Homo sapiens: one gene and its partner. The protein of the gene in region 2 purifies or fractionates together with the protein of the main gene of each other region. This does not show direct contact. Each region holds a gene or a part of one and is shown on either strand. Other genes may lie near its edges. The genes, in order: PTDSS2 and CSF1R.

The links.
Region 1: the proteins of CSF1R (region 2) and PTDSS2 fractionate together in Homo sapiens (co-fractionation; one large-scale study listed by BioGRID). This does not show direct contact.

Annotation. Positions count from the first base shown.
Region 1 is NC_000011.10:488,079-492,206, reverse strand, and holds the end of PTDSS2 (phosphatidylserine synthase 2), read right to left. Parts: intron 4,009-4,128; coding exon 3,895-4,008; intron 3,679-3,894; coding exon 3,560-3,678; intron 2,808-3,559; coding exon 2,693-2,807; intron 2,620-2,692; coding exon 2,474-2,619; intron 2,325-2,473; coding exon 2,139-2,324; intron 1,788-2,138; coding exon 1,625-1,787; 3' UTR 808-1,624; downstream 1-807. UniProt on the Homo sapiens protein: Catalyzes a base-exchange reaction in which the polar head group of phosphatidylethanolamine (PE) or phosphatidylcholine (PC) is replaced by L-serine. Catalyzes the conversion of phosphatatidylethanolamine and does not act on phosphatidylcholine.
Region 2 is NC_000005.10:150,076,555-150,080,054, reverse strand, and holds part of CSF1R (macrophage colony-stimulating factor 1 receptor isoform a precursor), read left to right. Parts: coding exon 1-3; intron 4-1,806; coding exon 1,807-1,943; intron 1,944-2,619; coding exon 2,620-2,779; intron 2,780-3,500. UniProt on the Homo sapiens protein: Tyrosine-protein kinase that acts as a cell-surface receptor for CSF1 and IL34 and plays an essential role in the regulation of survival, proliferation and differentiation of hematopoietic precursor cells, especially mononuclear phagocytes, such as macrophages and monocytes.

The DNA of each region.
Region 1 (4,128 bases), on a different chromosome or scaffold from region 2:
CAAGATCACGCCACTGCACTCCAGCCTGGCTGACAGAGTGAGACTCCATCTCAAAAAAATAGTGGCTCAAGCTGGGCATGGTGGCTCACGCCTGTAATCCCAGCTCTCAGGGAGGCAGAGGCAGGAGGATCACTTGAACCCAGGAGTTCGAGATCTGCCTGGGCAATATAGCGAGACCCCGTTCTCCACAAAAAGGAAGGAAAGAAAAAGAAAAAAAAACATAAAAATAGTGGCCCGAGAAGGCGGCTGCCCCTCCCCAGGAATCCTGTGTCCACTGCCCAGTGTCTGCCAGCCTGGGACAAACACAGCACCCCAGGAATCCTGTGTCCACTGCCCAGTGTCTGCCAGCCTGGGACAAACACAGCACCCCAGGAATCCTGTGTCCACTGCCCAGTGTCTGCCAGCCTGGGACAAACACAGCACCCCAGGAATCCTGTGTCCACTGCCCAGTGTCTGCCAGCCTGGGACAAACACAGCACCCCAGGAATCCTGTGTCCACTGCCCAGTGTCTGCCAGCCTGGGACAAACACAGTACCCCAGGAATCCTGTGTCCACTGCCCAGTGGCCGCCAGCCCTTGGACAAGCGCAGCAGAGGGTGGGTGCCACCTGGACCCTCCTGGAGAATGGGAGAGGGGCTGCATCTGGCACCTGCTCTCTCTGGGGGGTGGGGCGGGGCAGGCGCCAAGTCTTTGCTCAGGTGCAGAGGCTGAGTGCCTCCTGTCCTCTGTGTGGTTTTCCCCAAGTGGGCACTGGGCATGAGGGCAGGCTGGAGGGCTGCACTGGACCCCAAAGCAGGACACGGGGAGCTGGGGGGAGGGCTGGAAGCCTCAGACGTTCGTTGTCACTTTATTGGTTCTCTTTGCTCGTGAAGATGACCCTCACCTTGGAGCCACGGAGGCAGCATGACCCCAGCACCCGGGTTCCAGGCCCCCTTGAGGGGCAGCTCAGTGATCTCTGACCCCATCATCCACGTGTCCTCCGGGGTGGTCTGTGTGAAAGGAAGGCTCGGAGGAGGTGGCTCAGCATCGCTGCCTGGATCCGCTGCCTCTCAGCCACGGAGTGTTTGTGGACGAGCGCCCACACGAGCTGCGGGGGAAGTGGATGTGGAGCCAGTGTAGACGCCTCCAGGCCTCAGCGCACCCAGGGCCCACGGAGTGCAGAAAGGGTACCGAGATGTCCCTGCCTGGACCACACCATGGCTGGGTGACAGGGAGCTTGGTGGGCCAGAGGCCACGGGGCTGACCAGGCAGAAAGGGGAGGGAGGACCCTGGTTCCTGAGGGACACACTGCCCCAGAGCATGCCCTTGCCACGCCAGCCAGCTCCCAGCTCTGGAGAAGCCTCGGAGCCCAGAGCACACGTGCACACCACAGGCGGCCACGCATGTGTACACACGCGCGTACACACGCGTACACACACGCATACACACGTACACACGTGTACACATGGAGATGAGGCTGTGCTGGGGCCTCCTCCACCCCTCGCCTTCAGCCTCGCCAGGTGCACAGGAGAAAAGCAAAAAACCTTGAGGGCAAGGCCGGGCACGTGGCTCCTGGTGGGACTCACACAGGAGGAGGCCACGGAGGCCTGGGCTCTGGGAGGCTCACGAGGCAGCCACGGCCCAGGTCAGTTTGGAGTTGGTGCTCCCTCGCCCTCGGCCACCCCAGGCCCCAGCAGGTCTTCGTCCAGCCCCAGTGGGTGCTGGTCCCCGTTGCCGACGGTGCTGCCCTGGTCATCCTTGTTCTGCCACTTCTGCCACCGGGTCTCCTTGTACCTCAATGTGATGTCCCTGGGGAGCGGGATGCAGCGTCACCACCTGCCCCCACACCAGCCCCACTGCAGGCCCCATGGACAGCTGGCACCTAGTCCCTGTGGAGGTCCGGAATGGACTGGGTGGGTGCCGGGTACCCTGGCCCTGGGACGGCAGCCGTGGCAGACTGGAGCCCTGAGGAGCCTGGATCTGTCAGTGCAGAGCGAAGGCCCCGAGGGCTGGGTCAGGAAAGGCGCCTCCCGCAGAGGCGGCCAGAGGGTTGAAGCAGGGACAGTGAGACACCAACGACACCAAACTCCCACAGTGCCTGTGCCAAGGGACCCGGACAGCGGCCCTCCTTCAGAACATACGCGCCCTGCCCTGACTCACCGCAGGAAGAAGCGCCAGACGGTCCAGGTGAGCGCCAGGACGGAGCCGAGGGTCCAGCACTGGGAGATGTAGAAGGGCAGGGACAGGGTGAGCGTGTGGGGGTCGTACTTCACCACGATGAGCAGCTCCGTGGCCGTGATGGCCGCCACCAGCCAGGCCTGCGGGCCCAGCTTCTTGTGGGGCTTCCTGCAGGGGCAGCAGGGGGTTCAGCGTCCCGGGCCCCGCAGGGTCCTCCAGGCGGACTTGCCCAGGCTCCGGCCTCCCAGGCTCTGCTCCCCAGCCCTCCGGCCCCTGCCCCCCGGGGGTGTCTCCACCCGGACTGCCGCAGCCCTCACGGGTCATCCATGAAGTCGTAGATCTCACGCATGGCCACGCCACCCACGTTCACGAAGAAGACGAGCCGCAGGAGGACCAGGTAGTGCTCCGGGGGCATCCACAGCACAAACTTCAGGTAGAACGTGTTCAGTTCTGCCAACAGGAACTAGGGGAGGAGAGGGTGAGCACCAGCTCTGGCCCCCCGCCCGCCGCGCCGTCGCGAGGCAGCCCGGCCTTACCACCAGGATGATGCCGCACACGGCCAGCCAGCGACGCAGGCTGGAGGCCGGCTTCCACTCGAAGCGAACCCAGCTGTACGGCGTGAACTGGAAGGCGATCCTCTTCATCTTGCCCCTGGGAACCACAGAGCCGGCAGCCTGAGGAAGGCAGCCCACCGAACCCTGCCCTGTGCCATCGGGCAACAGACTGTTCCTGGTCACCCGGCCCCGCCCTGTGCCATCGGACGAGCTCTGCTCTTGGTCACCCCGCCCCGCCCTGTGCCATCGGGCCACAGACTCTGTTCCTGGTTACCCAGCTGCTGCCCGGCTGTTCTCCGAGGTCTGGCCACCCAGCTACAAGCCCTGCTTCTCCACGGCCCTCTGCTGTTCAGTCTCTTCCAGCTTGAGCAGTGGCTGCAGCGCCTCAGAGGGCGCTCCACGGTGCCGTGAGCTAGCCATGTCTGCAGAGCCAGGCAGAGCCGGGGCACCCACAGGCAGGAGGGGAGACCCCCGTCCCCCAGGCCTTTCCTTAGACTTCTGTTTCTTTTTTAAATTCCAAAGTCATAATGACAAAGTACCTGCAACTATTTCATAACCAAAGCAACCAAGGGAGGGAGAAGCACGGAATGATCCCACAGCCCCTGCGCCAGGCCGGCCAGGGATTGAGGAGGGAGGTACGTGGGTCAGACGCCATGGCCACTGTGAGGGGCGGCCGGGCTTGAGTGACACCAGGTCAGAGGGAGGTTCCAGGAGGCAAAGCCCCACGGTCACCCCTCCTGAGCCGCACACTGGACGGGCCTGGTGCTCGGGGTCTGCTGGAGCACGGACGCTGAGGCTGCCTCCAGGTAACCCCCACCCGGCCCTGCCCTCGCAGCCCCCACGACGTACTTGTAGGTCGGAATGTTCCAGAGGCCCTGCCACTTGTACGTCTTCAGGGACAGCCACTCAAGGGTCTTCATGCCGCAGTAGATGCCCAGCCCGTTGCAGACGAGCACGTCCATGATCCACTGCAGGGAGGGGCCAGCACTCGTTGCAGGGGTGAGGGGTAACGAGCCCCCCGAGGAGGACCCCGGAAGAGCACAGGGGAACCGAGAATGCCCCTCAGCCTGCACCCACTGCCCCCCGGGGAGAATGAGGGGGTCCAGGGGCCGCGCTGGGCACAGGGGTTCCGAGAATGCCCCTCAGCCTGCACCGACTGCCCCGGGGGCTGTGCTGGCACCTACGTGATCCCACCAGCACTCGCTGAAGTTGGGCAGCTGGTGCTCCAGGCTGTACTCCAGGAACTCGAACATCACGCTGATGATCATGCACATCCACCAGTCTCGGATCATCAGGGTCTGTGGGCGCCAGGGTCAGCCAGAGTATGGGACGCCGGCCACACCCGGCCCTGCCCACGGGTGCGTGCAGCCCCCACCCCGGCTGGCAGCCAGAGTATGGGACGCCGGCCACGCCCGGCC
Region 2 (3,500 bases):
AAGGTGCGTGGGGCATGGGGACCGGCAGCCAGGCCTGAAGAGTGGGGACAGAGAGCCGGCGGCCACATGGGTGGTGACTGGGGACTGGGTGTGATGGGGGGCAGTGGGATGTCCTCTTTCTTTCACTTCTTCCCCTCAATGGTTCCACGATCATCTATGGGGCAGGACTGACAAGGTGTCGGGGCAGGGAGACAAACCACATGTGAGCAAATAACTCAGTGGGCAAGGTCATCTCAAGTCATTGGACATGCTACAAAAATAAACATTCAACATGGTAGCTGAATAAGGAGTGTGTAGGGCGGGGAGCCTCACTGAGAAGGAAACACTTTATTAGAGCGGAAATCTGAATGACATGAAGAAGGTGGCTGTGCAAAGATCTGCTTCAGCAGGGGGACAGTGAGTACCAAGTGGTGAGGTGGGGACAGGCTCTGAATGTTCTAGGTATGGAAAGAGGACGGAAGCTCAGCCTCAGACATGGATTTCCCACTGGGGGCCTGCCTAAGGCCAAGTGCTGGGCATGTGTAGGAGGGATGCTGAGCCAAGAGGCAGGGAGGAGATGGTGGGTGCGTGTGATGGCTCTCGCGGTGGCCAGGTAACAGTGGAGGTGGAGTCTCACCCTGCTGGGATGGCAGGCAGGATTCTGGTTTCTGGGAGGACTGGTGAGAGCAAGCAGGACCCCAGCCTGAGGACCTGGGCTTGAGACAGCAATCAGTCCCTGTAACAAGGGCCAGGGTCAGAGTGAAGCAGCTAGCCCAATGCCACTGGGATCTGAAGCCACTAAACCTGCCCAGGGGGTCAAAGGACCCCAGCTGTGTGGGCAGAGGAGGCCATTAGGGCTCTTTCCTGGCATTTCATCCTGCAGAGCCCTGGGCTGGCCAAGAGCCAAAGGTCCTGGGCCCTAGTTCTGCCTTGACACCCCCTCAGGGACCTTGGGTGAGTCCTTTCATGTCCCTGGGCCTTAGGAATCTGGATTAGATTATCTTTCAACAGCAGCAATGGGCATAAATATGAATTCAAGGCCTACTGTGCATCAGGCATCTTGCTGGCTGCTGGAATATTCCTGTCACGGATTTGACATTCGACTAGAGTCTAACTATTAAATAGAAAGTAAATACAAATGTGATGAGCAAGAAACCAAGCTGGGGAGTGGCGGGCATGGAGGTGCTGGGGAGGCTAATTCATATCAGCTGGTCACAGAAGCCTTGCTGAGGAATTTTTGAGCTAAAGATCTGAAGGATGAGAACAGCCTCCCATTTGAAGTGTGGGAGGAAAGGCATTCCAGGAGGGAAAGGTGGGTGCAAAGGCCCTGTGGTAGGAAAGAGGTCCAGCGGGCTGCAGTGCAGTGAACAAGGGGTGGGGTTATCAGGGCGGTCAGAAACAGGTTGGGCTGTGGAAGGACTTTGACTTCTTTTCTGAGAGTAATGGGAAGCCCCAAATGTTTACAGAGGAGAGAGGCATGGTCCCATTTATATTTGTAAGAGGTCACTTTAGTGAAGAATCTAGGTGTGGGGGGCTTGGAGGGAGGCAGGGAGGTCTCTGAGGAGGCTGGTGCAGAAGTCCAGAGTGGAGAATGGTGACGGGACTGGGGAGGGGTAGAGGTGATGGAGAAAGTAGACTTTCCAAGGTCTCTTTAGGACAGGCCTTGCAGTGGGGGGACTGGGAGCATCAAGGCTGCCTCCCAGGATTTGGGATGGGGCAGTGATGGGGACCCTGGCCTGTGTGTCCTGGCCCATGGCAGGGAGGAGAGCAATATCTCTATCATGTTCAGGGAGCCTGGGTGTTCAGGGGTCTCTCCCCCGGTCTCAGTCATCCCAGGGCCCCCAGCCTTGACACTGGTGCCTGCAGAGCTGGTGCGGATTCGAGGGGAGGCTGCCCAGATCGTGTGCTCAGCCAGCAGCGTTGATGTTAACTTTGATGTCTTCCTCCAACACAACAACACCAAGGTCAGTCCCTGCAGATCACAAGGTGAAGTCTGGCCATCCTCCCAGCACACCAGGTTTCCCATGGTGGAGTCCTGGGCCCCCAACTCCAAACTGGCTGTCTTAGCTGAAGGCACAGCTCAGACTCCAGAGAGGGGTGCAGACTCACCCGAGATCTCACTCCCAGTCAGTAGCTGACACAGAATCAGGACTCATGCTTGTGCCGCTGAACTTTGTGGGGGTGGGTGGGGGGAGGTGGTTCTCTGTCACCTTGACACATGGCCTTTGCCCCAGCCTTTAGACAAAAGCCAGAGGTGAGCTCACTTCTGATTTAGCAAGGGTTTCCTAGGCCACCATTGAAGCCCAGGAATATAACAGCTATTTCAGAAAGACATTGGGAGAGAGGGAGGAGGAGGGAGGATTCCAGGAGGGACTCACGTTGGGCTGCCTCTAAGAGCCCCCTCCCTTCCCACTGCACCTGCCGTGTTCCAGACACAGCCCTAAGCCACTTGCATGCATATCTCATTTACTCCTCACTACAGTCTTGGGGCAGGGAGCCAGTATTAGCCCCATTTTACAAGTGAAGCAACAGGCTCAGAGGAAAGGCAGATAGTAATCCTTAAAGGCTGAGGATTGGAACCCAGATCTTTCTAATCCCTAAACTACCTTGGTATAACATCTCCATTCCTTCTGGCTGCAGCTCGCAATCCCTCAACAATCTGACTTTCATAATAACCGTTACCAAAAAGTCCTGACCCTCAACCTCGATCAAGTAGATTTCCAACATGCCGGCAACTACTCCTGCGTGGCCAGCAACGTGCAGGGCAAGCACTCCACCTCCATGTTCTTCCGGGTGGTAGGTAAGCATCAGGGTGGTGGTGGACAGTCGGTAGGGATCCTGCAGGAGTGTGAGCAGAAGGGTTTTGAGGAGGAAGCTGATGTCAGGGAAGGAGACCTGCTGAGGATATCTCTGCTGGAGTTTGTTTATCCAAGGCCTGGCTAAGGAGCCACTCTCCAGGAGCTTTCCCTTACCCTCTCCTGGGATCTCTCTCCCATCTTGGAGCTCTTACAGTGCATGGCTGCATTGGGTGCACCTTAGTGCCATTTTTTGTTTATTTGGGGATTGGGGTCCAGTAGCTCCCTACTGGACTTCATTTGTTCATTCTTTCATGCATTCCTTTATGGAAACATGAAAAGACAATGATCACCCAGTGATTATGGGGGAAGCACAAGGTGTCCTGGGAACACTGAAGAGTCCCCCCAACCCAGGCTTCGAGAAGGTGGCCTCTAAACTGGGATGGGAAGAATGAAGGTGAGTTGGCCGGGCAGAAGGGTGGGAAAGGAAGGGGAACAGCGCTTCTGGCAGAGGGAGGAACATATGCAAGGCTCAAAGGCAAAGAGAACATAGATCATTTGGAACACTGAAAGAACTTGACAACAGCTGGGATGTGGAGTGGTGTGAGGAGTGGCCACAGGGGAGCAGAGGAGGTGGCAGAAGCCGGAGGTAAAGGTGTCTTAAAGTGAGAAAGAATAACTGCATCTTAACCTATTGGGAGGTCATTGTAAAGAGGAGAGTGATGG